Regions from separate parts of the Homo sapiens genome. Here regions 1, 2 and 4 are each reported to be linked to region 3. The links are microRNA targets in miRTarBase. Many come from high-throughput screens and were not tested one by one. Region 3 holds a microRNA gene; each other region holds the end of a gene's coding sequence.

The links. Region 3 holds the annotated microRNA hsa-miR-7-5p (UGGAAGACUAGUGAUUUUGUUGUU, at 2,125-2,148, shown strand). A microRNA usually pairs through its seed, bases 2 to 8, with sites in the 3' UTR of a target mRNA and lowers its output. Matches are read on the target gene's strand: a 7mer-m8 pairs with bases 2 to 8, a 7mer-A1 pairs with bases 2 to 7 and ends in A, and an 8mer does both.
Region 1: the mRNA of SSU72 is a reported target of hsa-miR-7-5p. The part of its 3' UTR that is shown has no 7-base or 8-base seed match.
Region 2: miRTarBase lists SLC67A2 as a target of hsa-miR-7-5p. Seed matches in the 3' UTR shown: 7mer-m8 at 4,790-4,796.
Region 4: the mRNA of USP31 is a reported target of hsa-miR-7-5p. Seed matches in the 3' UTR shown: 7mer-A1 at 2,716-2,722.

The regions. Positions count from the first base shown.
Region 1 is chr1:1,535,995-1,543,931 of GRCh38, forward strand. SSU72 (SSU72 homolog, RNA polymerase II CTD phosphatase) reads right to left here. Exons shown (of 5, transcript NM_014188.3): 4 at 7,875-7,937; 5 at 5,679-6,173. The coding sequence ends at 6,072. It overlaps TMEM240 (transmembrane protein 240), which reads right to left and starts at 4,630. Exons shown (of 4, transcript NM_001114748.2): 1 at 4,296-4,630; 2 at 3,690-3,796. The coding sequence starts at 4,352. RefSeq lists a silencer at 3,215-3,509.
Region 2 is chr2:102,711,262-102,719,164 of GRCh38, forward strand. SLC67A2 (solute carrier family 67 member 2) reads right to left here. Exons shown (of 6, transcript NM_032718.5): 6 at 3,369-7,903. The coding sequence ends at 7,159. SLC9A2 (solute carrier family 9 member A2) reads left to right here. Exons shown (of 12, transcript NM_003048.6): 12 at 1-94. Among named protein-coding and RNA genes, the nearest start is that of SLC67A2, 22 kb to the right of the region's middle.
Region 3 is chr9:83,964,105-83,971,958 of GRCh38, reverse strand. MIR7-1 (microRNA 7-1) reads left to right here and starts at 2,102; the gene lies at 2,102-2,211. HNRNPK (heterogeneous nuclear ribonucleoprotein K) reads left to right here. Exons shown (of 17, transcript NM_031263.4): 11 at 1-77; 12 at 233-287; 13 at 603-686; 14 at 1,047-1,062; 15 at 1,140-1,222; 16 at 1,628-1,797; 17 at 2,519-3,876. The coding sequence ends at 2,552.
Region 4 is chr16:23,061,848-23,069,784 of GRCh38, forward strand. USP31 (ubiquitin specific peptidase 31) reads right to left here. Exons shown (of 16, transcript NM_020718.4): 16 at 1-7,769. The coding sequence ends at 6,199. Among named protein-coding and RNA genes, the nearest start is that of USP31, 84 kb to the right of the region's middle. RefSeq lists an enhancer at 6,123-6,624.

The DNA.
Region 1 (7,937 bases), not on the chromosome of region 3:
GTCAGTGGCCATGGGCTGTGGAGGCCGAGCGTGAAGTCCGGGCAGACAGCGGGACCAGCTGCCGGCGAGGGTGTCGGCCCTCACTCAGCACCTCCTCCCTGAGGCCTGGAGCTCACGGGAAGGTGCTGCAGGTGGAAGAGGCCTCCCCCGGAGGGGGCTCAGGACGGCGGTCCCCACGGCCAGGGTCACAGCTCACCCGCCCGCCCCGGGGCCGCGGAGGCCACTTGGAGCAGAGCTGGACACAGGGAGCCCTGCTGGCCCCAGACCAGCCACTCCCATGCACCCTTCCCCCCGCTGCTGTGCCCTTTCCTCCACGGCTGCCACCGCGCCTGCCAGGCCCACTGCCCCTGGTGTTTCTTCTGCTCCTCTATCCCTGGGAGGTGCTGTCGGAGGCCACGGGGGCTCTACCCAGCACCCCATCCTCTCCCCTTCCTGGGGGACGCCCCCTTGCCCTTGCCTGGCACAGACCCGCCCCGCTCCTCTCAGGATGGACGGCGTCCAGGCTCCAGGGCCCTTTCGTCCTCAGTGCCTGCGCGCCTCCATGTCCCTCGGCCTCCCCTCCCCGGGCTCTTGGGGGAACTGCCCAGGCTCAGGCCACAACAGCCTCTGGCCTCTTGCTGCTGGGGCAACACAAGCTCCCCAAGGAGCTCGCCCCAGCAGCTCACCCTGTCCCAGGAAGGTCTCCGGGCCTTGACTCTGCCGATCGGACTGGCATCCCAGACAGTCAACTCTGGGATCCCTAGTCCAACAGGAGGGCCTGGGAGTGGAGCCCGCGGGCCCCACGCGCCTTGCGGTCCACACTCCTGGCTGCCTCCCACATCTCCGCCGAGCTCCAGCTGCCTGTGTCTCCACGTGGGATCCGCAGACACCTTAAACTTGTGCCTAAAAATAGCTCCTCTCTCCCCAGACCTGCTTCTCCCCCACCTTCCCCTCGGTGACGTAGCAGCGCCTCAGCCTGGTTTTCAGCCGAGACCCAGAGACCACCCCACCCTCCACACCCCAACCAGAAGTACTTCCCACACTGAAAGCCCAGCCTGTCCGTCCAACCCAGGGTCTTGCAGCCCTCTCCAGGCCATCCCTGTGCCCAGCGGGGACCACACAGGTGCCTTCCCTCAGTGAGATCTGGGGGGTCCTGGGGCCCGAGCCCAGGAACAGGGAGGAGGTGTCCCCTGCCCCACGCTCCCCTTGAAGCCCTCCTGCTCTTCTGGGGTTCCCGGAGGTCAGTCCCCTCAGCATATCCGGAAAGTGGCCGCTTTCAGTGGCAGGGCTCTCGGTGAGGAGTGACCATGACCGTGGCTGATTCCTGGTGGCCACCGATCACCTGGTGACGAGCCTGTCCACAGCCATCGTCCATCGTCACCAATGGGCAGCTGCTGACCACTGCCCAGAATGTGCAGCTGCCAGAGGCCCTCAGGGGAGGAAGCTGTTCCTGACCCCTTAGAGAGTCCTCACCCACCCCAGGGGCTCAGTAACTTTGGGGGTCAGAGGTCACAGCCTGTGTCCCCCACCATGGCTGGCCTGGGTACCTGTAGCTCCTCTCCCTGCACCTGGCCCTCCTTCCTGGAGGGCTCAGGTCTCCCAAGTGAAAGCAGGAGATAGGCCTGGGCAGAGATATGCTATCTGCACACGTATGTCTGTGACATGTACATACGTGTGTCCTGCCTGCACCACACACACCAGGTGTGTCCACCTGAGGCCCAGTGTACATCACGTATACACACCAGCCACATGCACGGGACATGGCGTGATACTGTGGACATGGGCCCCGGGAGCGCCACACCCCCGCCCTGTGCACGGTGTGTCACGCGAGTGCATGTTCGCTTGGCTTTGCAAAACGCAGCCACCCTCTCCACGGGGCGCCACGTCACGTGCATGGACGGATGTCTAGTTTGGACGCTGCCTGCCAACAGACTTTGGAGCATTGATTTCCATACACGTTCTCCACGTCAACGTCTACGTATAGGCACGTATGAGGCCTACACATGTACACACACTCGTTCTGAACACCAGCGTGTACACACAGGGAGCCTCTCATGGCAGTGCACGGGCATGGTGGATACGCAGATACCGCATGTGCAAGACTGCTGTCTGCACACACACTGGCTGCAGCTACACGGAGACATCTTGACATGTCCCTGAGCACACGGCACTGTATATTGTGACATACATGTACTTTGCATACACATATATGTTGTCAATATACAAGGGCACTCTGTACGCTGAACGTACATATCCTGTATGTAGAGATGTGAACAGAGCATAGATACATGGACACACACGCAGCAATACCGTCTACAGCAGGCTGTGGCTCTGCTTCCCACACACGGCTGCCTTCAGCGTGCACCCACCCGAGTCCACGCGTGCTCTGGACACGGCATGAGCCGCCCTACATGCCCTGTGCAAATACTCTAAGGCGCCTCTGCCTGCCCCGCGGAGCCCTCAGTGTGCTGCCACAGGCGGATGCACACGGCCCCAGCCCACGTGCGTGGAGGCCGCACCTTTCTGATGCTCTGGAGCTCGGGTCTGGGCCCAGCCTCCGGGAGGCAGTGGAGCCGACCTCAGGCCTTTGCTCAGCAGTCGGACCTGCCAGCCAGGGACACGGGGCTCTCTGGTAGCATGTGGCCACCCCACAAGCTCTTACCCCCTACCCTGTGCCCAGCACACGTGAGGGTCACAGACACCCCGATCTCTGCCTTCTCTAACACCCGTGTTCTTCATCGACACGCCTGCTGCACCCATAGGCATGTCACACGCTTAGCAACACATGCAGCTGTCCTGAACACACATGCCCCACACCCACACGTATGCACAGAGACCCCCGGAGCAGGAGGCAGCAGAGATGACGAACACGGGTTCTGGGCTGGTGCCCCCTTTGTCCTTCACTAGCTGTGTGACCTTGGAAAAGCCTGTCCTCTAAATCCTCCGTCCACTTCCTCATCTGTTCAGCAGGGTTAACAGCGGCCACTGCGTGAGGGTGTCCTGAGGGGTGGAAGTGCATGCGTGCGTGCGCGGGGGCTGTGTGTACGCACATGTATATGCACAGACGCCACACACATGCGCGTCTCATGAGAAGATGTTTATTTCGTACATGGACGTACAAACATGCATGGCCAAGAGGATCCCATCGCTACACGTGCACAGAGGGGGTCACACGGTGGGTGCGGGGGGTCTGGGCGCTCCCCTCAATCTGAATGACCTTGAGGAAGCTCCACCTCCCCGCTGCCCCCCCAGCCCATCCCTCAGCTCCTCTCCAGCCCGGGGGTGGTGCCCAGTGCCCCTCAAGGCAGGCCCTTCCCGCCTTGACCTGCATTCCCCTGCCCAGGGACTCAGTGCAGGGCCCAGCCCTGTGCCAGCAGGCGCTTCCTGCCCCAGCCCTGATGAGGCTGGCTTGGGTCTCCACTGTGGACATCACACTGGGCTGCGGCTTTCCGGCCTCCAGGCTGGACCAGGAGGCCCCGTGACCCATTCCGCCATCACCCTGGAGGCCTCTAGGAACGGCGTCCTAAAGCCATGCGCCCCCAGGAGACCCCCGCCCACCTTGAGACAGCTCCTCCCCCTGCGCACCTGGCAGCCCTCAAGGGTGGAAGGCGGCTCGCGGCCTGCGTGGGGCTGGTTCCCCCGCGCCCCGAGTGGGCCCCGCCACACATGTGCGCTCACGCGTGTCGAGCCGGCGCCGGTTGTGGACTCACCGGCCACAGTTGCAGTGGCAGACGCGGTCCTCGCCCCGCAGGTGCGGGAGGATGTAGTTGTGGAATCGGTCCAGCAGCGCGTTCATGTCCATCAAGCACGCGATGGCCTGGAAGAGCTCATGACCGGTCAGCGCCAAGGAGCGGGCGGGACGAAGCGGGGCTGGGGGTGGGGAGCGCAGGCCGGGGTCGGGGCAGCGCAAGCGGGGAGCGAGAGCGCAGGCCGGGGTGAGGGGAGCGTAGGCCTTGGTAGGGGGAGCGCAGCGGGTATGGGGATCGCAGGCTGGGGAGGGGAGCGCAGGCCGGGGTGGGGGGAGCGCAGGCCCGGGAGGGGACCGCGGGCCGGGGAGGGGGAAGCGCAGGCCGGGGTGGGGGGAGCGTAGGCCGGAGAGAGGAGCGTAGGGAGTGTGGGGATCGCAGGTTGGGGAGGGGAGCGGAGGCCGGGGTGGGGGAGCGCAGGCCGGGGAGGGGAGCGCAGGCCGGGGAGGGGAGCGCAGGCCGGGGAGGGGAGCGCAGGCCGCACGGGCGGTAAACAAGGCGCGGGAGGTGGGCCAGGCGGCGCGCGCGGGCGGGGAGCAGGGGGCGCGCGCGGGAAGCCCCTCCGCTCACCATCACGACCGACGCCCCCAGAATCATGAAGATCATGGTGTTCGCGCTCATGGACATCGGGCGGGGCCGGGCCGGGCCGGAGCGCCGCCCCCCGGCCCCGGCGCCCCCCCGGCCCCGGCCCGATGCTGAGCCCCCGCCGCCTCCGCAGAGGTCAGCGCTTCCCTGGATCGTCCGCCGCCGCTCGCTGCAACCCCGGCACCGGCCGGGGGGAGGAGGCGCGGGGGGGGGGGCGCCGGGGAGGGACGCGGGGCCTTTCTGGGGTCTCTCGGCCCGGCCCGCCGCGCTCCGCTCCGCCCTCGGGTCCTCCCTGCGATGCGCTCGGCTCGGCTCGACTCGGCTCCGCTCGGCTCCGGCCCCCTCCCTGCCTCCTCCTCCCTCCTCCCCCCTCCCTCCCCGCCGCCTTCCTCCGCCTCTCGGGAGGGACCGCGCAGACCGCAGGCCGCCCCGTGCCAGCGCCGGGAGGAGACCGCCATCCCCCGGACGCCGGCCGGGACCCCTCCCCGGGAGCCTCGGCTTCGCGTCCCGCCCCAGTCTGGTCAGACCCAGCCCCGGTGGCCTGTCCGGTGACCCTGGACGCCAGTCCTCCGGTCCTGGAGGGGCGCCGAGGCCCTTCCCGCCCCACTGCTCCGCCCTACGTCCTGGACTCCCAGGTCGCCGGGTGCGGGACTGCCCCAGTCCGCTCGGCACGCACGTGCCTCCAGGGTGGGGTCCGCAAGGTCGCGACAGCCCCACGGCCGTGGGGGCCACAGGTCAGGGACGGGATGACCCCTGGAATCCTCAACGGAGGGATGTGGCACAGGAGCCGAGGGCAGGGCCGCCCCGCACAGGCTTCCCTTAGGGCGGGGACGAGGGGGTCAGCCCAGGCCCATGGGTCGGGACGCCGGCCATTCAGAGGCCCAGTGGCCACCACTCCGCTGTGGCTGTCCCTGGCTCGGGGTCCTGAGGCCAAACTCTCATCCACGACCGGTGACCATGTCTCAGGCCCGGGAGCCGACCCCCGGCCTCAGCAGGAAGTCAGCGGGAAGCTATGCCTGGGACCCAGCCTGGGTCGTGGCGCCATCCAGGCTCACTGCAGCCTCCACTCCTGGGCTCAGGCGATCCTCCCGGCTCAGCCTCCCCCGTAGCTGGCCTTGGGGGATCCCCGCCCGGGGGGGTTCCACATGGAGAGGGGACGCCGCTCCACCACAGGCAGCAGTTGTGGCAGGAGCAGGCGGCTTCCGCTTCAGGCAGCACAGGCACGGGTAGGCCCAGACCCTGTCAGCACCACCAGGTCTGAGCTACTCCTCCCAAGCAGTGGTCGGAGGTCACTGAGGGCGGCAGGGCTAGGCCTCTGCCACCTCCTCAGGGGCGAGGGTCGGGCCAGGAATTCAGGACCAGGCACAATGACAGCAGCATCTGTTTATTGACAATTCCAGGTCATTCCTAACACGCCGCAGCAGGGCTCTGTACAGTCCGGCCCGGTGGGGAGGAGGGAGGGAAGGCAGGCACACGAAGACACAGGTATGTCGGGAAGTGCACACAAACCGTTGTCTTTCCTTTTTGGTTAAAGAAGAAAAACTTTGTAATCAATATCCTGCTCATAAGTAAAAGTGGAAAAGAAGAAACTTGATTGCTTTCATCTGGCGTTTTGGCATCTCCTCTCCCATTTCATATGCACAGTTTATTTGGGTAATGCTACCGTCACCAGCAGAACACCTGTAAGTAAAAACAAATGTCAGGAAGGAAAAAGTATGAACAACAGGAAGCTCCAGAGGCGGCTCCATGCGGGCGCTGGGCTCAGTAGAAGCAGACGGTGTGCAGAAAGGTGCGGCCACTCTTCTCCTCGAACTCCTGCAGCAGCTCGTCGATCTCGTTCTCCATGTCTTCCGTGTGCTGGATCTGCAAGGACAGGACCGTGGTGAGGGCCTTGCCCACTCCTGCCTGTCTGCTCCCCCTAACACCTGGATCGCCAGGGAAACGCCAGGCCTGAGCCAGCAGAAACCAGCGCAGCAGGCAGGCCCTCACCCCACCGCTGCTGCCTCACAAGGACGGCCGGAGGCTGCAGGGGGAGAGCGTCCCGGGCAGCCCCCACCTCCCCACCGACCCTCACAGGACCTGAAGCTGGGAGGAGCTGGGAGGAGCCTGGAGCTGGATTCTGAGAGGGGCCCAGCACGGAGACCTGGCGGCCAGGGCTCAGACCCACACATGCACAGCGGGGCCGACCAACCCTCACCGCCAGCGCTTCCACACCACCAACAAGCGAGCGGGGGCAGCCTGGTCATCGGAGCATCCTGGCCTCCATCCACCAGAGCCCCTGGCAGAGGGCCGCTGCCCCAGAGTGAGCAGGCCCGGCTCCTAGGCACACCTGCCCTGGCACCGGCAGCTCGTTACTCGCCATCTCCACTGTCCCCTGGTCCCCAGCCTTGGCCAGCACCCAGTGCCTCTAAGCAAGGAGCGGCCTGTCTGTGACTCAGCTCTGGCCAACGTGACCCAAGCAGAAATCGTGCAATAACTTCTGGGACGACATTTTCTTATGACCTTTTCTCCTGCCAGGCGATCATGAAGACCGTCCCTGGCGCTTCAGCAGCCACACTGGACCGTGAGGCACGTGGGGACCAGAAGCCATGCTGGGTGGGCCAGGCGGAGCGCAGGAGCCTCTGCGGCCACACAGCAGCTTCTCCCAGCGCCCGCCCGCCTGGCTCCCGGGCTTTCCAAACACACCATCTTCTTTCTTGGTGAAGCTGTTCTGTTTTTCTGTCTTTCACAGACATTCATCAAATCACAGAGGCAGAGGCAGAGGCAGAGGCGGGACGGTGCGTGGGGCTCTCCTCAGGCAGGTCCTTTCGTCACAGCCCAGCACCTCCACGCCGCAGCAGGGTGGCTACAGAAGCCTTGGGGTGCCCCGGCCCCTCTGTGCAAGGGAGACATGCAGGGCCCACTGGGGAAGGCAGGTGTGCAGAAGGCCAAGTCCAGGGGTGGACGGCGGACACAGAGCCCTTGGCAGCCTCCAGGCTCACGTGGGGCACACCTCCGACTGCACCGCATCCCGGAGAGCTGCATGCTCTGCTCACTGAGGTGGGGCTGTGTCCGCCACGGGGAAGAGACAAGGTACCAGGCGTTCCCTGGAGCCGTGTCCTGGGAGAGGGACTAAGCCTGTGTTGGGGAGGTCCCTGTGCAGCGTCTCTCAGCTGAGCAAAGGGCATTGCAGGGGGGCCTCCTGTGCCAAAGCTGTGGAGTGACTCACTGAACTACCAGCAGGCGCCCCCGACACAGGCGAGCTGAGCAGACCTTGCCCCAAGCAGCAGGGCCGGCCTCAGGTCTCGGCCACTCCCCTCTGTCACGGCCTCGGCCACTCCCCACTGTCACGGCCTCGGCCACTCCCCTCTGTCACGGCCTCGGCCACTCCCCACTGTCACGGCCTCGGCCACTCCCCACTGTCACGGCCTCGGCCACTCCCCTGTCACGGCCTCGGCCACTCCCCTCTGTCACGGCCTCGGCCACCCCCTCTGTCACGGCCTCGGCCACTCCCCTCTGTCACGGCCTCGGTCACTCCCCTCTGTCACAACCTCTGCCCAGCGCGGCGCCCAGCCGGGTACTTACACACTGGCAGAGCTCACAGATGAGAAACGCCCCCAGGGTGGCCTCCTCGTGGTTGTCCTGGAT
Region 2 (7,903 bases), not on the chromosome of region 3:
GCACACTGTACTTTCTTCTTAAAAACGTGATTAAAGAGATCACTTTGTCCGGATGAAGCAGCTGTTGGCATTATCCGCTGAGGCTTGAACACCACGTGCTGATTCTCTCATCAATCTGAAAAATAACACTCGTGGCTCAGAACACACAAGGTTAAAGTGTGTGGCGCACTGCTACTTTTTATCTCACTTTTTAACCAACCCTTTCTTCAACCCTCTTCTAAGGAAAGCAGAAGTCCCCTTTGGGTACCAGCTGTGTGGCATAACCATGGCTCCTTGTCCCTGACAGATGACACCTTCCTTTAGAATCCACCAGCATCATCCACTCTGCGTCTAGCTGACACCCTCAGACAGGGATCAGCCACCCTGGGGCGTGCAGGTCAAATATGCAGATGGGGACTTTGCAGACCACTTCAGTGTCACGCTGGCACATCATTTTTGATCCTTTTTCCTTTTTAAACTTCCTGCACCTTTTCAGATAAAATCATATTTTACTATGTATAGCTAATAAATCGTAGTTTTGTTCTCTTAATCGCATGGTCAGGAAATGAGTTTTTCTAGGTGTAGAGTTAACCTGTCTACTGTGAATGGATTATTATCAACTTTTCAATCTACACAGCATAGAGATTATTTTGATGGCTCAGAACATACGTCAAGAACTTTCAGTATGTGCAGAGGTTGTATGGGAATCTGTTGTTCTCCTACTGGAGGGTACGGAAATGTCACTCCATGAGATGCCCAGCAGACAGAATACCAGATACAGAGGCTGTGATTTTTCTGATTTCTGGAACAAAACATCTTGAATTAAAAATTCAGACATTTTAATCCTTTTTTATTTTATTGGCTCCTGCTGAGTCATAAGTATGACTGGAGACTAAATTTCTAATTTAGATGAAGCTCTTTGTATCCACTTAGGATAACCCTGCTTACCAAACAAATTTTGTATATGTACACGGACAAAGGAAATTTTTCCTTGTTTCTATGAAAAATCTTACCAAAGTTTAAATATTAAATCACATGTAAACCTTTAATCACTTATGGAGAAAATAGTACATACATGAAAACAGAACAGTCCCAGTTTTTGTATTTGTGTATGAAACCACTCTCATTTATGTTGAATGGGATTGTGATGGCTAGAATTCTTCAAAGGTAAGAGCTTCAGAGTATTGAAAATTTCAATTCTATTAATTCCAAATACATATATCTCAGACTAGGCTAACTCTATTACAGTGTAATAGAACGTGATTAGAGGAATAAACATTTTAATTGGTGCATTAATTTTTATATCTAAAAAGGCTCTGCAAAAGGGCTCAAAAATGGTGTATGCTTTTAAATATTAAATACGGCCTTCCCATGCAAACGTAAAGAAAAGAAGTTAATTCCAATTATTGCCTTAATAATTTTTAAAGATTATGCAAAGATGTGTATTAACACATCAAATTTTAGGTTTCCATGAATACATAGTTTGGCATCTGATTAATAAATAATAGATTTGCTACCATAACTATGTCTTACTATTGAACCTTTAGTTTAAGTCCTGACCTTTAGCTAGAAAGTTATTTTGAATGGCAGTAACAGTTCATCATGCTTTCAGTGCTATTCACTCCAAAGAGATGCACAGTGAAGGTACTTTGAAGGTGCCCCAAAGAAAATGCTCACCCTTGTCAGTGACGTCACAGACTGGGCCTGACAGATGTTAGGCTTTGAGATGGCCAGGCCTATGCTTCAGCCCCACAGAACAGACTACTTAAGGCAAACACCTACCAAGTCGCATACATACAGCCCCACAAGGGTCCAGCCCGAGTCAGCGGCAGAACACCTTTATTAGGTTTGCTTTGGATATTTCATGTGGTTTCAATTTCATTAAGCAAACTTGGGACAGGTTTAGGTAGGTAAGCTATCACACAAAAAACTAGTTCTGTCTGGATAAGAGGCTGTGTCTCAACTACTCAAAATGGCATGGAGATTCTTTGGTAAGCTTGAAGGAAGACTGTCTCCTATCCATGTTATAAGTTGCAATCATTAATAGGTATTTTAACCACTTTCTTCCTCTACAGTGGATGCTTAGAAAAAAGAACTGTATCAAGATGTAGTATAAAGACTGATCAAAATACAATTCTTTGTTCAAACAAGATCCTTACAGTTCATTCTTACGCTGTGTAAGTTATCAGCAATAATTAACACTCCTTCCTTAATGTTTATAATTATCTTCTCCCTGGAAGGAACAATACAAGCTGTGTTAAGTCACTTTTAAAAATAAGAATCAGTGGCCAGGCACCGTTGCTCACGCCTGTAATCCTAGCACTCTGGGAGGCAGAGGTGGGCGGATCGCCTGAGGTCAGGGGTTTGAGACCAGCCTGGCTAACATAGTGAAACCCTGTCTCTACTAAAAATACAAAAATTATCTGGGCGTGGTGGCGCGTGCCTGTAGTCCCAGCAACTCGGGAGGCTGAGGCAGGAGAATTGCTTGAACCCGGAAGCAGAGGTTGCAGTGAGCCAAGATTGTGCCATTGCACTCCAGCCTGAGCAACAGAGTGAGACTCCATCTCATAAATAAACGTTTCTTATAATATACTGAAACAGGAAAACAGAAGTTTTGCTTTTATTGTTTTAGTAGACAGCTATCTATAAAATGGTGTTTAGATACCTGTTTGGGAAAAATGAGAGATCTAAGTATTTGTGCATCTGCTTAACTAGAAATAAATCCTACTGTGAGATGTTACCTTAAAAGTACAGTTGACCCTTCAGCAACACAGAGTTGAACTATACAGGTCCACTTAAACGGGGATTTTCTTCCATCTCTGCCACCCCTAAGACAGCAAGATCAATCCCTTCTTCTCCTCCTCCCCCTCAGCCTACTCAAAATGAAGGTGGCAAGGATGAAGACCCTTATGATTCCATTTCCACTTAATAATATTATTTTTCTTTTTCTTAACATTTTTTCTCTAGCTTACTTCATTGTAAAAATACAGTATATATGTAACACACAAAATACATGTCAGTCGACTATTAATATTGTTGGTAGGGCTTCATGTCAACAGTAAGCTATTAGTAGTAAATTTTTAGAGAGTCAAAAGTTACACTCAAATTTTCTACCGTTTTGGGGGCTTGGCACTCCTAACCCCTGTGTTGTTCAAGGATCAACTGTCCTCTACTTACTGGCCTTCAGTATAAATGTCAGATTACATATATATTTGGTATCTGCATAATGGTTTTAAAAGCCAAAGCCTTGTTTTTAATATTAAGATGTGTTCTAGCATACTGGAGATGACATTTTTCAAAGCACTTCTGGATCCTGAATTGAAATATGTAGCAAGACACATCAGTGACTTCTAAAAATACAACTTATAAGAATAAATGACAGTTCCTCATTACAATTATAAAGTTTTATTTTTGAAGAAAATTATCATGTGACTGGCAAATTCAAGAAAAAAACATTAGAGCTGAAAAAAAGTTATTTTAATCCATCAACCTGTTCCAAGAAAAGCTGCTACACATCATCCTGGCTAAATCTGTGGTAACCCTGTTTTAGAGACTTCTTGAAGGCTACTAGGGGGCAAAGAGGCATGGAGATTCAGTCTCATGGCTTTTATTATGCATTCCAAATAAATAGCTGTTTTCTGAATGCAGTTGCCCAAATGCCTAAAATTTTCTGACTGGACTGATTCTCACTCCTGATAGATTTCTAAATACCTTATAGAAGTGTCTTCAGGAAAAGACGCCAAGCAACCCTTTGAAATTCCTCAAAGCTGCACACTCATCACCTGGGAATTATTCACAACCTCTCCTGCGATTGCCCTGTGGGCCACAACCTCTGCCTGCTGTCCCTGTCCTCGCGACCAGCTCTCCCTCAGGGCCCCCCTAAAGTTACTGCCCCAAAGTCCAGACTACTCCTTGGGCCTCCAGTTAATCCTCCTTGCTGCGGCTAGAGAGCTCTTTCTAAAACAGGAGTGTCTTCACAGCACTTTACCGCAGGAATTCTTCCGTCATTCCCCTTCATCCGTCAATACAATCTCAACCCGAGCATGGCAGCCGAATCCATTCTTGATCTAACTCAGTGATTCCCAACTCCAGATGTTCACAGAAACATCTGTGGTGCTTCAGAGTCTGGTTCCTGTGGTCTAAGGCATGTAGCCAGGATACAGAATCAGTGATTCCAGCTCCTTCTGTTGGCCCCAGGTGCAACTCTTGCAGAATTCACTCCCCAAGGGGCCATCCAGCCTGAGTTTGGAGCCTTGCAGGTGACTCCTGTGACTAGACACACCCTGTACCTTTTCAGAATGTTATTCATCCCTCTAGACATGAGGGCAGAGGCCTACCTTCTGCTCTATGGAACCCAAATCCTGGAGACCTGTTCCCAAGCAGTTATGGCTGGCAGAGTGTTGGAAAGGGTGACACTTCCTTCAAAGACATTTCAGGAAGGTTCAATACTCCTAAAATAAGATTCCATAGAATAGTGAGTTGCACCCTATGAAGATATTTTTGACTTACAAAAATAGCAACTTCATGTGGCTCAACCTGACACACTGGAAAGGGCTACAGAAGTTACTCAAGAGAATTTAAAAAATGAAACACCACAAATGTCAATTGAGCAGATTTAATTTCCCTGAGATTATATTCCATAAGTGATACAAATACTACCCCTTAGACCAGGGGTTTTCAAAGTTTGCTGTGCAAAAAATCAGCTAGGTATCTTATTAAAATGGTCCCCAACATGTCTGAGCTGGAGCTTCAGTGTTCACAGGTCTCAGGTGATGCTGATGCTACTGGTCTCTGGGTCACACTTTAAAGAGGAAGACATTAGATAAAGTAAAAGGAGTCATGAGAAAAGGTGCACCTAAAAAACATCACATAACAAAATACTAAAGTCACTAGTGGAGAATAACAAACATGTCTCTCTACTCTATATTCTAAGATCAGTCTTTGGTTTTCTATATTTCCATGTGTCTGATTATAAAGACTCATTAAGTTTATGGGCTTTTTAAACTTCAAAAATAAAGTGCTACGATTTTTAAAATAAAAACACGACTATAAGGGCTTTTAAGAAACTTGCCTGTTTCTGAGAGTGAAGGACAATCTTTGAGATCCAAACTCTTCTGAAATTCTATTTCATTGCATAAACCCTCGATTATTTATTGCCTTTTGAGTCTAATCTCCATGAGATTTAATTTGCTCCTTAAGGGCAAGGCCATTTTATATATTAATAATAGTTTGGTCTCCTCGAAAGCACTTAACATTTACATAAAAGTTCACAATTGTAAAACCTAATCAGAAGTCCATTTTTCCTTGCAGCAAGATAGGAAAAAGGACAATCTTCAAACTAAAACATACTTCCAATTATTTATCATAAATATTTGATTTTACTCCATGACTTCTAAAATACAGAAATGTTTACTGCTTTACAAACAATAAATATTAAAGATATGACAAATTACTGTAGCATACTAAAATATTTACAAGTATGCATGTGTTAAGTTGAAAACAGGCATACCATCCTAGTGGACTAATTAAGAAAAGTAAAAGGAATGTGAACTTCAACTGTCTGACAGGAAGCCCTTAAGTAACTGATTAATACTTGATGCAATCCCAATGGTCATCCTGCCTGGCATATGTCTCCCTGCAAGGCTATGTTCACCTTCTGTCTGGGCCTCTGCCTCTCGTGGCCCCCTCGGTGCTGTATATGAAACTTGTTTAGACAAGAAATGGCACATCAAAATATTTCCGTTGATCAACAGAATGCTTGTGTTTGCAGGCGTGAAACTAAAAATAAAGGAAATGATTCTTTTTTTTTTGAGACGGAGTCTCACTCTGTCGCCCAGGCTGGAGAGCAGTGGCACAATCTTGGCTCACCGCAAGCTCCGCCTCCCAGGTTCACGCCATTCTACCTCAGCCTCCCGAATAGCTGGGACTGCAGGCGCCCGCCATCACGCCCGGCTAATTTTTTTTTTGTATTTTTAGTAGAGACGGGGTTTCACCATGTTAGCCAGAATGGTCTCCATCTCCTGACCAAGTGATTCACCTGCCTCAGCCTCCCAAAGTGCTGGGATTACAGGCCTGAGCCACCGAGCCTGGCCAGGAAATGATTCTTAACACAAGACACAGTAGCATCAAGTTCTGGTCTGGCATGACTCCTGACCCTTATTCTGCATAAACTGTTCATTTTTAAAGCATTCCTGTGCTTTGGCTTCACCACTGGGTTCTGTCAGCACCAGAAGGATGCAACCTGACTGGAATGCAGGCTTCCAGGAGCAGGCTGTGGCAACCCCAGCATCTAAGTGGTTTAGTCCAACTTCAGAGCAAGCTGGGCTCTCAGAGGCAGGGAGCACAGGGAACAGGTCCCAGGGGCCCGCTGCTCCATCATGCAGTACAACTGCTGAGAGCTGGGAAAGGTGTAACACACTGTGATTACAAACACAATTTTAAGAGTCCAAATTTAGTTAGCTGTGTAAAAACAGCCAAGCCTATGTACTTTAATCAAAATCAGTGCAGTCTCAGTGTGGTCTTTACTGCCATGAGAAATCGCCAGCAGTGCTTACAAAACACCACGGATTTCTTGGCCCCACCCAGGCCCACTGAATCATCTCTAGGGGTGAGGTCAGTATCTTATTTTTAAGCAGCTTTGAAAAGCGACAGGCTGGTTCTAATAAACCAGCTTCTTCAATCTGCAGGATTTTGATAGAAAACTCCCTCCTAGTGTATGGAATTTAACTGGAAACTCAAGTTCCAGTTGATCAGAATTTGACTGACATGTCACCCTATTTTTCAGTAGGAAAATGCTTGTGGTTTCTTCCCTTCCTCCAGGTATCATGTTCTCTTATTCCACCACCACTTCCCTATCCTGTAGCTGGTAGTTTGTTTACCCTTGAAAATTGTAACCTGATTAGCCCAGGTGGGAAGAAGAGACTTCCAGGTAAACGCTGAATATGCTCACCTTGGAAAAGCTTTGCTCCAGTCTTAACCTTCCCATGAGGTGCCGTGACTTCTGATCATCCTGCAGGCATGGCTGCATGGCCAAGAGCTGACCTGGAAGCCCAACAGCTCACACCCACCCGGAAATATTTCCCTTCCACCCCAACCCTTTCCAAAGTGCCCTTTTCATCATGGCCTCCGGCCCTCATTCAACCATCTCAAATTTTGTTGCTTTATGTTGTCCAAATCCATCTACTCACTTTTTAATTTACTATTCCCATCACCACTAGAGTGTCGCTTGTTTAGAGACATTATGAAAATGGCCACTAAGGCTAACACAGCGCCCAGGCTGGGGGGGCCGCAAGGGCTGACCTCCTGGGCAACCCCCGAGAGGAGAGGGGCGATGATGCGGCCCACTGCAGTCACAGACTGCCCCACGCCAATAAGGGTGCCGCTGGCCTGGGCCCCGCCCACAGTCAGCTGGAGGTCCGTGATGCACGTCCTGCCAATGGCAGTGGAGAAGGACAGGAGAGTGGAGGAGAGGACAACTGCACCCATGGTGGGGGCCAAGGAGTAGAGCAGCAGCAGTGTGCAGGTGAGTATGCTGGAATGCAGCAGCAGTGCCTGCGAGTTGTGCTTGTACAGCCGTAGGATTGGCCCCAGGGCAAGGCCGGCCACGGCCCCCAGCATGCTGCTGTAACTGATGAGGTAGCCTGTCACCTTGGGCCGCACCCCAAAGCGCTCCTCCAGGGCCAGGACAAAGTTACTGTAGTACAGCATGACTGCCATGGCCATCAGCAAGCGCACCAGAAATATGTCCCACATTTCGGAAAACAGCAGGTTCTTCATGTTCCGCAAGGCCAACACTACTTCGACCCAGGGCTGGGCAGTCTTCTTGCTGGCCCTGGCTCTGCGGCTGGTGGCTGCCTCCTGCACTGTGTCATGGCTCCTTCCCAACAGCACATGGGTCTTTCGCAATGGCAGGCCCTTCTCTGTA
Region 3 (7,854 bases):
CCTCCCGGACGAGGCGGCCGGGGTGGTAGCAGAGCTCGGAATCTTCCTCTTCCTCCACCACCACCACCTAGAGGGGGGTAAGTTGTTTTTTTTGTTGTTGTTGTTTTTTCTTCCCCCATCTATGAATTATTAACCTGCAAGAGGCTGCACTTAGTGGTAGACAAGGTAGACTTTGATTTGATATGTGTGGCATGTAAGCACGTTTAGATTACAACAAGTACTATGCTTGCAGAGACCTCATGGCCTATGACAGAAGAGGGAGACCTGGAGACCGTTACGACGGCATGGTAAGAACTTTGGTTTATTACCAGTGTGTTGGGTATGTGAGGGTTGTCACAATGTAGTTCACGTTTTGTTGAAGGTTATAGTGATTAAAAAGTTTTTCTTACAAGTAAATTTTGTTTGGATTACTAGTTAAATAATTCTGTTATTTGCTGCTGGAGGATTACGACTTTATTGAGCTTTGTTCCCCTCGATTACAAAATTGCTGCCTATATATGTACCCTCTTTTGTTTTAATGTAACATGCAAATTAGGCATATTAAAAACAGCTCTATAACAAAATACAATGCGGGTTCATGTTAATGTTTTTATCTCTAACAGGTTGGTTTCAGTGCTGATGAAACTTGGGACTCTGCAATAGATACATGGAGCCCATCAGAATGGCAGATGGCTTATGAACCACAGGTTGAGTATCATAGTTGTTCGTGTGTATATCAGTGATAATTTAAGATGCTTACCTGCTCTCCAGTAAGTTTTTTATTCCCCTGAGGATACTTACTGAAAATAGGATACAGGAGGACTTTGGTTTCCTGAAGAGGGATTTTATGAGATTAAAATACTTGAATAGTGAAGCTGGGTGCAGTGGTGCTCACTCATAATCCCAACTACAAAAGAGTCTGAGGCAGGAGGATCACTTGAGCCCGAGAGTTTGAGACCAGCCTGGGCAACATAGCAAGACTCCATTTTATTAAATGAATTTTTTTAAAGTACCGGTAGTAATTACAACGGCAAAGTAATTTTCTATTTTTTTCTTTCTGTTTTTAGGGTGGCTCCGGATATGGTAAGTTCTCTCCTTTGTGAAGTCAAACATTAATTTCATACTTTTTAAATGAACTTACTGCTCATTATTTAAATCAGATTATTCCTATGCAGGGGGTCGTGGCTCATATGGTGATCTTGGTGGACCTATTATTACTACACAAGTAACTATTCCCAAAGATGTAAGTATCTTTAATACTACCAGGAACATTTTATCACTTTTATGATTATTCCTCCTTTCTGTATATTTTTTAATTCAGAAGGTTTTAACAAAAATACACATTTAGGATTGAGGTTATGTTAATGGGCTTTAGTGAGCTGGGTTTTCAGCTGTTTGAGTCTTGTCAAGTGATCAGTGCTATTAATAAAAGTAGTTAAGTAGGTTTTGAGCCCTTAACTAACTAAGGGAAACATTAGTAAGTGTGACATAAATACATTATAACTCAAACCTTGACAGGTTTAGGGAGCGTTAGATCATCAGTTAAGATTCTGAATGAATAAAATTAATAACTTCATGCTCCTTGAAAATACAGGTAGTAAATGTTAAAAGTATATCGTAAACACATACTTTTAAAAAATCTTTTCAGTTGGCTGGATCTATTATTGGCAAAGGTGGTCAGCGGATTAAACAAATCCGTCATGAGTCGGGAGCTTCGATCAAAATTGATGAGCCTTTAGAAGGATCCGAAGATCGGATCATTACCATTACAGGAACACAGGACCAGATACAGAATGCACAGTATTTGCTGCAGAACAGGTCAGTTTAAGTTTAGCTTTGTGTTAGCTTATACATACTAAAACCTTTAAAAAGCTTTTCTTCTCAATTGATTTTTTTCTTTTAGAAGCCATGGTGTCTCAACCTTTTGGGGACCTAACTTCTAAACATTCTAATAGTTTGCCTTAATTTTTCTTCTGCTTTCTTACTAAAAATGAAGACATTCAATACTAATCTTGCTGGAAGAAGCCTTAACCAAGCAAACTTCTCATTTCTCTGGTGAAAACTGCTGCCAAAACCACTTGTTAAAAATTGTACAGAGCCTGTAGAAAATATAGAAGATTCATTGGATGTTGGCCTAGTTCTGTGTGGAAGACTAGTGATTTTGTTGTTTTTAGATAACTAAATCGACAACAAATCACAGTCTGCCATATGGCACAGGCCATGCCTCTACAGGACAAATGATTGGTGCTGTAAAATGCAGCATTTCACACCTTACTAGCATTCTTTGTCTTTTCTACCAAATATTAACAACTTTCAATTCCGTTTTCTTAATTCTGTTCTACTAATGTCCGATTTACTACTCATCATTTTTCTTGACACTTAACATTGCTTTAATTTGTAATTGCTAATGGTTTTTGAACTCTTCTAATTGTAATGGACGTGTTTATCATTTTAATTTAGCATTGAAATTGTCTTGATGTTGATTAAGATGTTACGAGCAAAAATTCTAATTCGCACTTTTTTTTCTTTTCTTTTATAGTGTGAAGCAGTATGCAGATGTTGAAGGATTCTAATGCAAGATATTTTTTCTTTTTTATAGTGTGAAGCAGTATTCTGGAAAGTTTTTCTAAGACTAGTGAAGAACTGAAGGAGTCCTGCATCTTTTTTTTTTTATCTGCTTCTGTTTAAAAAGCCAACATTCCTCTGCTTCATAGGTGTTCTGCATTTGAGGTGTAGTGAAATCTTTGCTGTTCACCAGATGTAATGTTTTAGTTCCTTACAAACAGGGTTGGGGGGGGGAAGGGCGTGCAAAAACTAACATTGAAATTTTGAAACAGCAGCAGAGTGAGTGGATTTTATTTTTCGTTATTGTTGGTGGTTTAAAAAATTCCCCCCATGTAATTATTGTGAACACCTTGCTTTGTGGTCACTGTAACATTTGGGGGGTGGGACAGGGAGGAAAAGTAACAATAGTCCACATGTCCCTGGCATCTGTTCAGAGCAGTGTGCAGAATGTAATGCTCTTTTGTAAGAAACGTTTTATGATTTTTAAAATAAATTTAGTGAACCTATTTTTGGTGGTCATTTTTTTTTTAAGACAGTCATTTTAAAATGGTGGCTGAATTTCCCAACCCACCCCCAAACTAAACACTAAGTTTAATTTTCAGCTCCTCTGTTGGACATATAAGTGCATCTCTTGTTGGACATAGGCAAAATAACTTGGCAAACTTAGTTCTGGTGATTTCTTGATGGTTTGGAAGTCTATTGCTGGGAAGAAATTCCATCATACATATTCATGCTTATAATAAGCTGGGGATTTTTTGTTTGTTTTTGCAAATGCTTGCCCCTACTTTTCAACAATTTTCTATGTTAGTTGTGAAGAACTAAGGTGGGGAGCAGTACTACAAGTTGAGTAATGGTATGAGTATATACCAGAATTCTGATTGGCAGCAAGTTTTATTAATCAGAATAACACTTGGTTATGGAAGTGACTAATGCTGAAAAAATTGATTATTTTTATTAGATAATTTCTCACCTATAGACTTAAACTGTCAATTTGCTCTAGTGTCTTATTAGTTAAACTTTGTAAAATATATATATACTTGTTTTTCCATTGTATGCAAATTGAAAGAAAAAGATGTACCATTTCTCTGTTGTATGTTGGATTATGTAGGAAATGTTTGTGTACAATTCAAAAAAAAAAAAGATGAAAAAAGTTCCTGTGGATGTTTTGTGTAGTATCTTGGCATTTGTATTGATAGTTAAAATTCACTTCCAAATAAATAAAACACCCATGATGCTAGATTTGATGTGTGCCCGATTTGAACAAGGGTTGATTGACACCTGTAAAATTTGTTGAAACGTTCCTCTTAAAAGGAAATATAGTAATCTTATGTATTTTTTTGTGTGAAGTGTTTTTCTAGCATTTATAAGTGAAAGCTGGCAGGGGTGGTAGTTGGGCTCATAATTAACGTGGTAATTTAGCAAAATGAGAGCCTAGTCATCCAATTTTTTTTTTCTTATAGTCAGCCAGAGCTTTCCTCATTACCTATGAGAAATTTTGAGTGAGTTACTTGGTTCCTTTCTCTAAAATAGCTTTAGTTTGATGTTTGAGAATATCGGAGATAATGTAAAATAACTGCAGAGTATGGTTCCCGGCTCATATTTCTGAAGTACTACTTATTAACCTCCAGCTGTCCAGAAAGCTTGAAAACTGTTTTTGTTTTGTTTTGTTTTGTTTTTTGAGACAGTGTCTTGCTGTTTTTCCCAGGCTGGAGTGCAGTGGCATAATCTTGGCTCACTGCAACCTCCATCTTCTGGGCACAAGCAATCTTCCTGCCTCAAAACAGATGAACAACTATATAGGAAAGGAGTCATGAATGTAATTATTGAATTTAGGTCAGAGGCTTGTGTATAATAAAAGTAACAGTTGGGCAGTTCTAGAATTCATGTAAGTATTAATAGTATGAACAGAATAATGTCTTTTAAGGGAAGTAGAGTTGAGTGACATTTAGTTTGGGGAGGGACGTAGAGTGATCTTTTGATTAATGAAGAACATGAAGTAAATGTCAAAATATTACTTAAAACTAGTGAATGCTACCTGTGGTATGGTTTCCCCAGTGTGGTTGAGTTGGGGTTGCTCAGGGTGAAATGAGCCCTTACCCCTAAAGAAAAATGACAAGGACACTTTAGTCAAATTGTTAATCCTACTGAAGGAAAGCATCCCTGGAGAGAACACTGGCTTCCAAAGCTTTTATCTGTTACCTGTAAATGAGTTATGTAACACATGGACCATTAGCTGCAAATGTTTTCACTTTTGCATTTTACAATAATTTCAGACCTTAAACACATCATTCTACTGAAGACTTAATGGATTGAAGAATATCTGGTATTGATATCTTTGATATACAGCTTTGGGAGGGAGAGGGGCCTTTTGCATTGCCACTGCTATTGATTGGTAAATGGTATTTAAAATTTGGGTGAGAATTGGGACAGGTTGGGAGAATTTTCACAAAGGGTGGGAGAAGTGAACATAAGCTCTTTAATTAAATGGAATATTGAGACAATTTTGTAAGAAGTTACTGGTGTATAATGCTGACTTAGTTTCAAAAATTTAGCCTAACTTTTTGTAAGTTAATTACCAAAATGCCAACAGACAGAAACCAAGTTGTACTAGTTATCTCAAGAATTTAAAACCTTTCCCTACTATTCAAATTTTGTTTGCCTTTGTTTTATTGTACTGAGACATATAATGTAAAATACTAAATCTGATCTAATAGCAAAGAAAATCAAACCAAACAGCAAAATTTCCTTTTAAAAAACCCTTTCATTAGTTTTAAGGTTTTTTAGTACTCAATTACTACCGTTCCACGTGAATTAGGTAATGAATTGCTTCAGATTGCTGTGATTCGAAGTAAATTTAATTAGCCTCGGTGCAGTGGCTCACACGTGTAACCCCAGCATTTTGGGGGCCAAGGTGGACAGATGGCTTGAGCCCAAGAGTTTGAGACAGCCTGGGCAATATGGTGAAACCCCATCTCTACAAAAAATTAGCCAAGCATGGTGGCGCGTACCTGTAGTCCCAGTTAGGAGGCTTGAGGTGGGAGGATCGCCTGAGCCCGGGAAGTGGAGGCTGCAGTGAACCTTGATGGCACTACTGCACTACAGCCTGGGTGACAGACCCTGTCTCAATCCAGTAAGTTTTTATGTTAAAGAGAACCAAAAAAAGGAGAAGAATTTTTGTTTTTAAAAAGATGGTCTGGCTGTGTCGCCCAGGCTGGAGTGCAGTGGTGCTATCTCGGCTCCTGGCTCAGGCCATCCCCAGAGACCTTCCTATATTTCAGACCGGGGCAAGAGCAGTGGGAGATGATTAATGAGAGAGCAGAAACTCCAGATGGGTTGAAAAGGACGCCAAAAGCACAAAAACAAGGCACTAGCCTCACTTCTAATTTGAAACCCTGCAAAGTGTTCCTATGACCACATGGGATAGAAAGCACAGAAGACCGAGAGATACACAATGTTTGGCACAGAGATGATCTGAGATTACAGACACAAACACCCCACAGAATTTTCCTTTGATTCCCAGATGTCGTAAGAGGGACATCACTTGAGAACCAATGGGACTTGTGATGGGGTCATTATGGTGAAAGATAGGGTTACTGCATAGTAGCAGCTGTAAGATAAAGAGCCCAGCTAGTGGCTGGATACAGATGGCAGAATAGCAAAAGATTTGCAGTACCAGTGAAAGCCAAGGCGAGATAGTCAAGGAGAGACCACTGAATTGAGTGCCAGTTATATTAGCTTTGGCGCACACCTATAATCCCAGCTGCTCAGGAGGCTGAGGCAGGAGAATTGCTTGAATCTGGGAGGCGGAGGTTGCAGTGAGCCGAGATCGTGCCACTGCACTCTAGCCTGGGCAACAAGAGAAAAACTCCGTCTCAAATAAAAAAAGGAAGACCAGTTTTTTCTGCTATCAGTGGGAATGGGAATTTATGAGAAAACTCACAAGGCATATCTAGGAATTTACCCTGGAATTACCAAGAAACAGGAGAGTTAAGACTAATGCAATCAAACCATAAATTCTAGGTGGAGGTGATCTCACTTGGAATGGGCCTTCAGATCATTTATTCATACTTTGTGTCTCAAATTGGTACCAATTCTGTGTATAGTTCAGACTCTGGAACTCGGGATCAGGCTGACACTGCTGAGACTGCATCATGGTTTGACCAATTTTCCCTGCCCTGTGCTCCTTTCCTCATTCTGCTTCAACTGAGAGCACTCTCGAAGTGAATCAATTGCACAAAAATCCCTGGCTTAGGCTCTGCTTCTAGGACTTGATCTAACACAGTTAAGCTGAAGCTAAAGCAGAAATGTACATCACCCACATATCCTGGACTTGATTGTGATGCAGCAAATAATGAGACTGGGTTGTCTCCCTCAGAAGAGGGGGTGAGAAACTTATGAAGAATAACTGCATTATACTAGTATTTCTGAAAGTACATGAGAAAAAAATTCTTGAATGCTGAACAGCTAAAGGGTGAATTATAATGGACATCTTATTAATACCACATCAGTTTCCCCTTTCTAATTGCACACAGTTTTCCTTGAGTTTTTCTCTCTCCATTGTACATAGGCTTGAGGAGAAAGAAATCCTGGTCCTTAACGGGTTATTTTGTCACCCCAGAGGGTGGACATTTGATTTAGGCTTGGCCAACCAGACTCTTTCTCCTGAGATTTTCAATCTTGAGGAGAATGATGCAAGCAAGCTGTAATGCTTATAGGTTTTTTTGGGTTTTTTGTTTGTTTTTTGAGATAGTCTCCCTCTGTCACCCAGGCTGCAGTACAGTGGCATCTCGGCTCACTGCAACCTCCGCCTGCCAGGTTCAAGTGATTTGCCTGCCTCAGCCTCCGGAGTAGCTGGGACTACAGAACTACAGCCACCACACCGAGCTAATTTTTTTTTTTTTTTTTTTTTTTTTTTTGAGACAGAGTCTTGCTCTGTCACCCAGGCTGGAGTGCAGTGCTGTGATCTCTGCTCACTGCAAGCTCCGCCTCCCGGGTTCTCGCCATTCTCCTGCCTCAGCCTCCTGAGTAGCTGGGACTACAGGTGTCCGCCACCACGCCCGGCTAATTTTTTTGTATTTTTAGTAGAGACAGGGTTTCACCATGTAAGCCAGGATGGTCTCCATCTCCTGACCTCGTGATCTGCCCGCTTCGGCTTCCCAAAGTGCTAGGGATTACAGGCGTGAGCCACCGCGCCCCGCCTTTTTTTTTTTTTTTTTTTTTTTTTTTTTTTCAGTAGAGACACGGTTTCACCATGTTGGCCAGGCTGGTCTTTTTTTTTTTTTTTTTTTTTTTTCCTGAGATGGAGTTTCG
Region 4 (7,937 bases), not on the chromosome of region 3:
ATGTCAATGAGGCTTAAATTCAATTTTAACCAGTGGTGAGAGGCACAGTTGGTGAGCAGACCTCTATGGAATGCAAACACGTATTTGAAAGGCCTACAAAGAGAACTCCAACTTCGGAAATACTGTAACTGCTTTTGCATTTGGTATGACACCACACCGTTTATAATAGCACCTAGGAAATTTCATATTGCATTTGGACGACTGCAACAGATATCATTATTCTGGATGGCCTTTCTAAAGAAACATTTCCAACTTGCATGTCTACTTGTATCTTCATTCCTTAAAATGTTGAAAACACCAGGTAAATTGTGGTGTTTTGTAGGCAGCATGAGGCTCGACAGAATGAAACCATCAGATTACTTCGAAGGTGTTGTAGTGCATTCAGCTCACCACAGATTAAAACTAAATTTTATTTGCCTCCACAGTTAACACAGAGTGCCAAATTCTGGGATGTGTATTACTTAATGGTAAAACAAACAAAAAACAAAACAAAACAAAAACACGAAAAAATAGCAATAAGGGTTTTTTTTTTTTAAAAAAAAGACACCAAAGAAAATGTTTCACATTCATTTTCAAACTAAAAAAAAGAATTCCTGAAACCACATTCTGGATAAGAACTATCCTAGAGAATGAGCAAAAGTAGGAAATTCAGCGGCAGCCTGGGGTTTGCTACTGTAATTCCTACAAAAAGGCAATAATTCTATCAAAAGCAGGGACAGGCTTTCCAAGGCTAGGAAGGTTGTTTCTTTTCTTCTTCGACAATTTCTAGCTCAGAGTGACTTCCCTATTCCCCCACGGGCCTGGGGAAAAGGTTCTGGGGACAGATGCAAACCCCGCGGGGACACTCAGCCTGCTCCAGCAACTAAGACCACCAATTTCCACCAGACTGGCGAGTGCTAGGCCATTCACAACATGGTCCAAGCTCCCCAACTGGGCCTTGAATCAGAAGGGCCCTTGTATTTCAAATGGGAGTTTGATATCAGTATCTCTCAATTCTTTTTATTCTTATTTTTTCTGCTTCTCCTACACAACTGAGGAATCAGTCACTCCTGAGTAATTCAAATGGCAGTGATTCTCGCCATAATTCTCAGTAAAGGGATGACGTATCATAGTGGTTCTCAATCTGTCTGCAAATTAGAAACACCCAGAAGCTTTTAAAATACATGGTAATTCCTGGATCCCACCCCTACATGAATTAGATCAAAAGCTAGGGACTGGGACCCAGGCACTGTATTTTTTAAAGTTCCCCAGCTGATTCTAGTTAATGTGGGTCTTCACTATCTCAGACAAGTCATTCAGAAGAGGCTTAAAAGAATCTTGAGGAAAATACATGTGTGAGATTCAAAAAAGTCTCTCAAATTTGCTGTGCACCCCTTCTCCCAAAAATTGGGAAACACTAAACAAATGTAAGATGGATCTAGAACCGAATCCACTGCACAACACTCCCAGAAATTCCATGGGCTTAGTCTAATTGTGATCAGTGGCTGGGAAGCCCCAAAGCTTTTCAAAATAGCTCTAAGTCTCTATAAAAGCATCTTTTAATTCTTAGCACTATTAGAAGCCACATTCTTTCCTTGTGACCAAAATAGAACCCTTGAAGATATAAAAAATTAAAATCTATAGAAAATGGCAGGTTATTTTTAGAACAAAACACTTTAGGAAAGTCTTCAGGCTAAATACAGTATGTACACCAATGATGTGTGTTCAACATATCCAATTCCACTTCTGCTTGCAAAATACTTTACAATCTCGCCAATGATCAGAAAAACAGCAGAGAAATATATGCAGAGCAAAACAAGAAATCGCATTCATGCTCTTCTACACAATGATGAGTAAGCCATATTTTGAAAATCACAAATTTAAAAATAGAGCTCCATAATTGTTGCCTTTTTTTTTTAAGACTTAACATTTCATGTCTATATGTTTTATTGTTTGCTTGCATAGGTAGTAAGAGCATGCTTTCTGAGTTATATGGAGGCCACGCACAATTGTTTTTACTTGGGGAAAAAAATGGTCATGCTCAAAATGCATCTGCAAAATACTTTGAAAGTTGATCAAAAGGCAGTGTGAGAGTGTTCATTTAAATAAAACCACTGGATTTCTCCCCAAACCATGTAGTAGAGTTTAACAATAATGTACCCTTTATGAAATGAAAGTTAAAGACAGCCTGCACAGTAACAGCTACTTTTTGTGTTCGTTTGTGATAGGTACTGGTTTGTCAGCAAAGTTTGCCTTTCTCAACTACAAATAATACAAAGTTCCACGCACCTCCAGAATACGTGTTTTATTGAAACTGTGCTTATGACTTGCATACTATTTCAAAAATCCAACCCAGAAACACTAGTTAAATCTTTGTATCCAATAATTATAATAACCTACATTGGAAACAATCACTTCGGCTGTTCAGTAATTTGTCCGAATGAAATGTAACGTCTGATGCCCCTCTATGTGAAATAAAGCACGCTTATTTCAAATAAATGAGCTTTGTTCACAGCTCTTCTCTGCTCCATTTTCCCTAAAGGCTGCCACTCTTGGTCCCTTTACATACTGTTGCTATTTTTTTCATGATAGTTATTTTAAGGGAATGACAATGTTCCCCTCAAATCCCACATCCGTCTCATACAAACATAAGATGACCCAATGTTAACGTAAAGTGACTGTGTAATGGATTTTCAACCCCTAAATAGTAGAGACAGCTCAGTCTGAAAAGGTGGATGGAAGAGTAAAATGTCTCTAAAGATGAAGGGCACTTTTGGTTTCCAGAAGGAACAGACTTGCTCAAGAGAACCACAAGCCTTAGCCGATTTGACCGGAATCCACGTGATCTCTTTTCCCAGGAGAACTGTCACTCCATTTAGGACACCATCACATCCCTTGCTTGATGGGCTGTGCTCCCAGGGCTCCTCAGCTACAGCAAATCCCTGAAGCTTTCAGTTTTGCCTCTGTGCTCAAAGAAGGCCCTCCATAAACGTTTGCAGAATGAATGATGAAAACAAGATTGCAAAAGCGTGTCAGGCAGCCTCACAGATAATTACAGTATTTTAGCACACCACAAATACTCCCACATCCGTTCCCACTGGTCCAGCATATTATTACTTACTTTCAGTTCAGCTGCTTTCAGGACGAGAAAATACAAAACGGATGGGAAATGGTCTAAGATGACTGGAGCCTAACGGTTTGAGTTTCCACATTATCTAAGGGATTACCAAGGCAAGATGTAGGGCTGTCTTAAGGAATGATACGGCCTCAGTGCAATGGATGTTTACAAGAAATCAAGAATAAAACTTTAAAAAGCAAACAAACATTACAGATACAACATTACTGTTGGTGATTATTTTGTGCCTACCAGGAGATGACTGCTCTAATCAGGCCCATCTAGATGTCAACGAGAAACCCAGGCCTATCATCCCTAGCAGATAATTTTTAACCCCAAAGCACATACACGCTCATTGTGCTAAATATTGCTGGGAAAATTAAAAAAAAAAAAAAAAAGAAAAGAAAGAAAGAAACCAACACCAAGTCCCCAACCCTACCAATGAACTAAATTGAATCAAGTAACTACTTTCCCACAAGATACTTCCCACCTCAAGGAGCACCTCCAAACTTTCGGGCCAAATAACCTTTCCTGTGGCCTAAAGTTGTACCTAGTAGTTGGAGATAATGAAATTTTCACTGTTTACCAACTATGGAAATAAAATAGCTTCATGATGTCTAGACAATGCCATGATACTTCCTGATTTTTTCTATTAAACCTGAAACAAGGACTAAACTCCATGACATACAGTTTATAGACACTGACATTTTATTCCAGATCCCATGGAAAACCAAAGGGATTTGTAGAAACGTTTTTCCTTTTTTTTTTTAAGTCACTAGACATCGTGGAAAATCCATTCCTAGATAACTCAAGAATAAAAATATTTACCACTGTGAAAATTAAACTAGTTTCTATTAATGCTTGACTACAGCAAAAAAGAAGTGTTATTAAAAACCTTTGTCTAATCAAACTATAATTGTTTCAGAGATTCAGATAGGAGACTTCAAATGAGATCTACCTATTAAACAAAAATGAGAGGTTTGAGTTAGACATTCAATTCCTGATATAGATGATCTCTTATTTGGTGCATCTTTTTCAGGAGATAAAAGCGATACAGAAAAACGAGAGCGGTGGCTACACACTGATGGGGCTGTGATGTGCTGGGCTGAACGCAATGACAGCATCGAAGGCAGCCAGTTGCCGCAGATGTACTGAGCAGATGAGAGTGGTACTGCTTTGAGAACCCACCAAAATCTGAACAGTAAAACCAGGACAGCGAGTGAAGAAGTGAGTACAGGGCTGAGTGCAATGGACAACAGGCTCACAGTCAATGAATCACATGGAGCACTGTGGTAACTTTCACAAGGCTAAATGTCTAAATCTTAAATACTGCCAAGGGTCTAAAATTCCAGCTACCCTCAACAGTAAGTGGTCTCCAGACTTGCAAGTTACCGGCTAATGCGCAAATTAGCAGCAAAATAAAGTTAAGTAACGTACTAAAAACTTTTCCCAAGAGATATTCTTGGGGGGAAAAAAGAAAAAAAAAGTAGTGCAGAATTCACAGCTATGCATGCATATGTGTTGTAGTTAATTCACACACAGCAATACTGAAAAGGGAGGTTATATATGGATCTGTGCACCAAGGGTTCAAGAAGAACTTGAAGAGTCTGACGAAAAACGCTAATATTTAAAAGCACATAAACTTAGCATGCTGTATTTACTGGCAAAGTGACAAATGCTATTCAGAGAGAATCAAGACCTTCACTCTCTTGACATTTAAAAAAAAAAGAAAAGCTAAAAATTGAGCAGGAAAGTATTGCCAGGAGACCTTGAAAAAGCTTGCAAAACTATATACTTTGCTTATCTGTGAGGTTTTTTTTGGTGAGGTTCTCCTTTGTAAGAAATGCAATTTGCACTGACACGGCCAGATGGAACACACTCCAAAACCTGCTTGTGAGTTCTGGGCATGAGATGAAATCTTAAGAACAAAGAAGAAATAATAAATGAGTTACTGAAAGGCAGCCCTAACAGAGACTGACAGACAGGATCTGAAGTGCATATGTAACACTTGATCACACAACGCTTCAACATACCACCATTGGCTTTTGGCAGAAGGCAACTTCTTTCCTCTCCAAGCTACAAGATGAGGGAACATGAGCCCACAGACACAGGGCATCGTGGAGCTTCCCACCTCTAACGGAAAAATGCAACACCTGACAAGGAAAATGATGTCCAGTCTTTCACCCAGTTTAGAATCTAGAAGTTTTTTCCAGGAATCTGTCAAAGGTGTTAACTGCTCTACTACAGTGCAAAATTCCAAGAGCCTTAGCTAGTAATTTCAGAAGGAAAAAAAATTAAACGAGTGACTGGCTTTCTGGCTATCCAATCTGCCACTTCCTAGGACCTATCCCAAGAGTCAAGACAGGTTTTGGTGCACATGTCACCACAGATAGGAAGGTGGTGAAAGGCTTCATTTCTACCTCGAAAATGTCTATCTGTGGCAGTAGGAGAAATGACACAGTCACCCACATGGCACCTTCCTCTTTAATCCATTTACTGGTGTGCAACCATCCTAGACTAGCTGAGTATATACCTGAGAAACATTAGTGTTAAAATATTGCCCTTTACAAAGACTGGTAGATGGGGCGAAAGTGCAGAAAGCAAGAGTTTTTCCCTCGATTTGTTTCGTTGTTAGAGTCACAGTTTTTAGAGCTCCTGGTGCCACCCACAATCCACAGTAAGGACAAGTCCTGCTCAGAAGAAACACGAGTCAGCTCCTTCCTCCTTCTACGCACTAATGGTAGCTTTTCTGGTTCACAGGTTTCAAAACCCTCATATCCAAAGAAAGTCATTAGAGTTCTCTAGAAAGAAATATGTACAATTGCTAAAGGGACCGTCCTGGGTATCGTCTACAATTATTCCAGTTAGCTTGGTGTCAATGTTTTGCCTATGGCTGTTATTTGGTTCAATGGCAGAATAAGGCGACGCTTTGAACAATTTGCAATTGAATTAGACACACACACGCATACACTCACACACACACACACAGTCGGGCACGTGACTCAAAAAAGTACAAAACAAAAGCACAGGAGGCTTTGGTGGGAGGGCAGGGGTTCTAAATAAATAAACATCTTTACAGATAAAACACTTTGATTGCAGAAATATCACTGAGGTTTTTGAGAAGGCCGTGCAGAGGTTTGCATGCTAGAAGATAACTTTTTTGAGGATTTCTCTGCAGACTGCCTGCCACCCGGAGACGAGGGAACTCCAGAGTCTAGTTGGGAAGACTTGGATTTGCGAGCGGACAGCAGGGAATGTTTGGCAGAAGCAGGGTCCTTGGTGACAAGCTGCTCTTTTCCCGTTGTATTTGCATTTGGCTGCTGGGAAGCTGGAGGCTGGTGGCCTCTCTCTGCCTCGTCGTCCCCGGTGTTCTTACAGACAGACTTAACAGAGCTCCCACCAGCCTTTTTAGAGAGCAAGGCTGTCTTGCCAAGATCCGTCGAGCGCCGGGTTTCCTTCTGTCTCAAGGCTGATTTGAAGAAGGACAGCCCCTTGTCCTCAGACTTGCTGTCCCTCTTCAAACCAGACTTGATGCTTGTGCTGGGGGAGCGCAGGCTGGCCATGGAGGAGCTCCGCACGTGCTTCCCGGCCCCCCTGCCCTCCCCTGCTCGGGCCTGGCTCACCCGAGGGGAATTGGGTTTGGAGGTGGAGGTGGCGCTGGCTCTGTCAGAACCCAAGCTTTGTCTGGAGCCCTCTCTACTCAAGCTGTGGTCTGAAGTCCTGCTCTTCCCAGGTGGGAAAGGGCTCCTTGTGGCAGGGCCCGAGGCCTTTTTGGCAGATGTGGAGGAAGCAGTGTAGGTGAGGGCCGAGGCTGACTTCTGCTTCTGTGGCGAAGGAGATGACACGGAGTCCTGAGATTTCGGGGATGACTCCTTTTTGGGTTGGGCAGGGGCAGGGGATGAATGCCGTCCACTGCCCCTGGAAGAAGAATCTGCTTTGCTGCGGGAGCGGGAGGGCTTTAGAGAGACTTTTACAGGAAGAGGAGAAGAAGGGGATGTACTTGAAAGGGATGACTCCTGGCTTGCCAAGGCTGGTCTCCCCTTCCGCAAGCTTTTCTCTGGCTCAGAAGTGCCTTTGGAACTGGGGGATCTCTTAGTTGTGCTCTCTGGTTTCTTTGCGAGTGAGCCTGGGTGGCTGGGGGCTTTCACCTCTTTGACTGGAGAGCTGTCTACGGAGTCGCTCTGATCCACATAAGCGATCTGATTATTGTTATCAAATGGACCAGAGAGCGGGGGCAGGCGGTCCCCTTGTGCTGAATGTTTGCTCTGTGTATCTACGACACTGGAGTTCAATCTGCGGGTGTCCGATTCGTCTTTGAACACGCCTTCCATGACAGCCAGAGGGGCCCGGCCCACAGCCTTGTGCTCACGGCGACTATGACTGTCGCTTGGTTCCTGGTAACTGCTAGAAAGGTTCCGCAAGCTACCAAAGCAAGAGATGGAGACCTTGTCATCTGCTGCCTCCCCAATCTTCTCCAAGGTGGAAGCAGAGCTGTGAATTGGCGAATCCCCTGAAAATCGGGATGGAGAATTGGAGCGCATCTGCAGCTTAGCAGACAGGGACCATGAAGGTCTCATGCAATTTTCATTGACGGCCAAGGGGCTGGTGACAGAAGATCTGGATGACAAACTCTGACGCTGGACACTTCTCACAAATGGTCGAGTTGAAAAGCCTCCTGAACACAGTAAAGAGAATACTGTTAAGTTAAGCCAATGAAGACATTCTAACAACACTGTAAGACACTGAAGGTGAAACGAAGGTAAGCCTCATGGGATGAAAGGAGCATGACCTTCAGAGCCAGCCCATCTGGGATCAAGGAGTCCCTGTGTGGCTTTGACTTTTC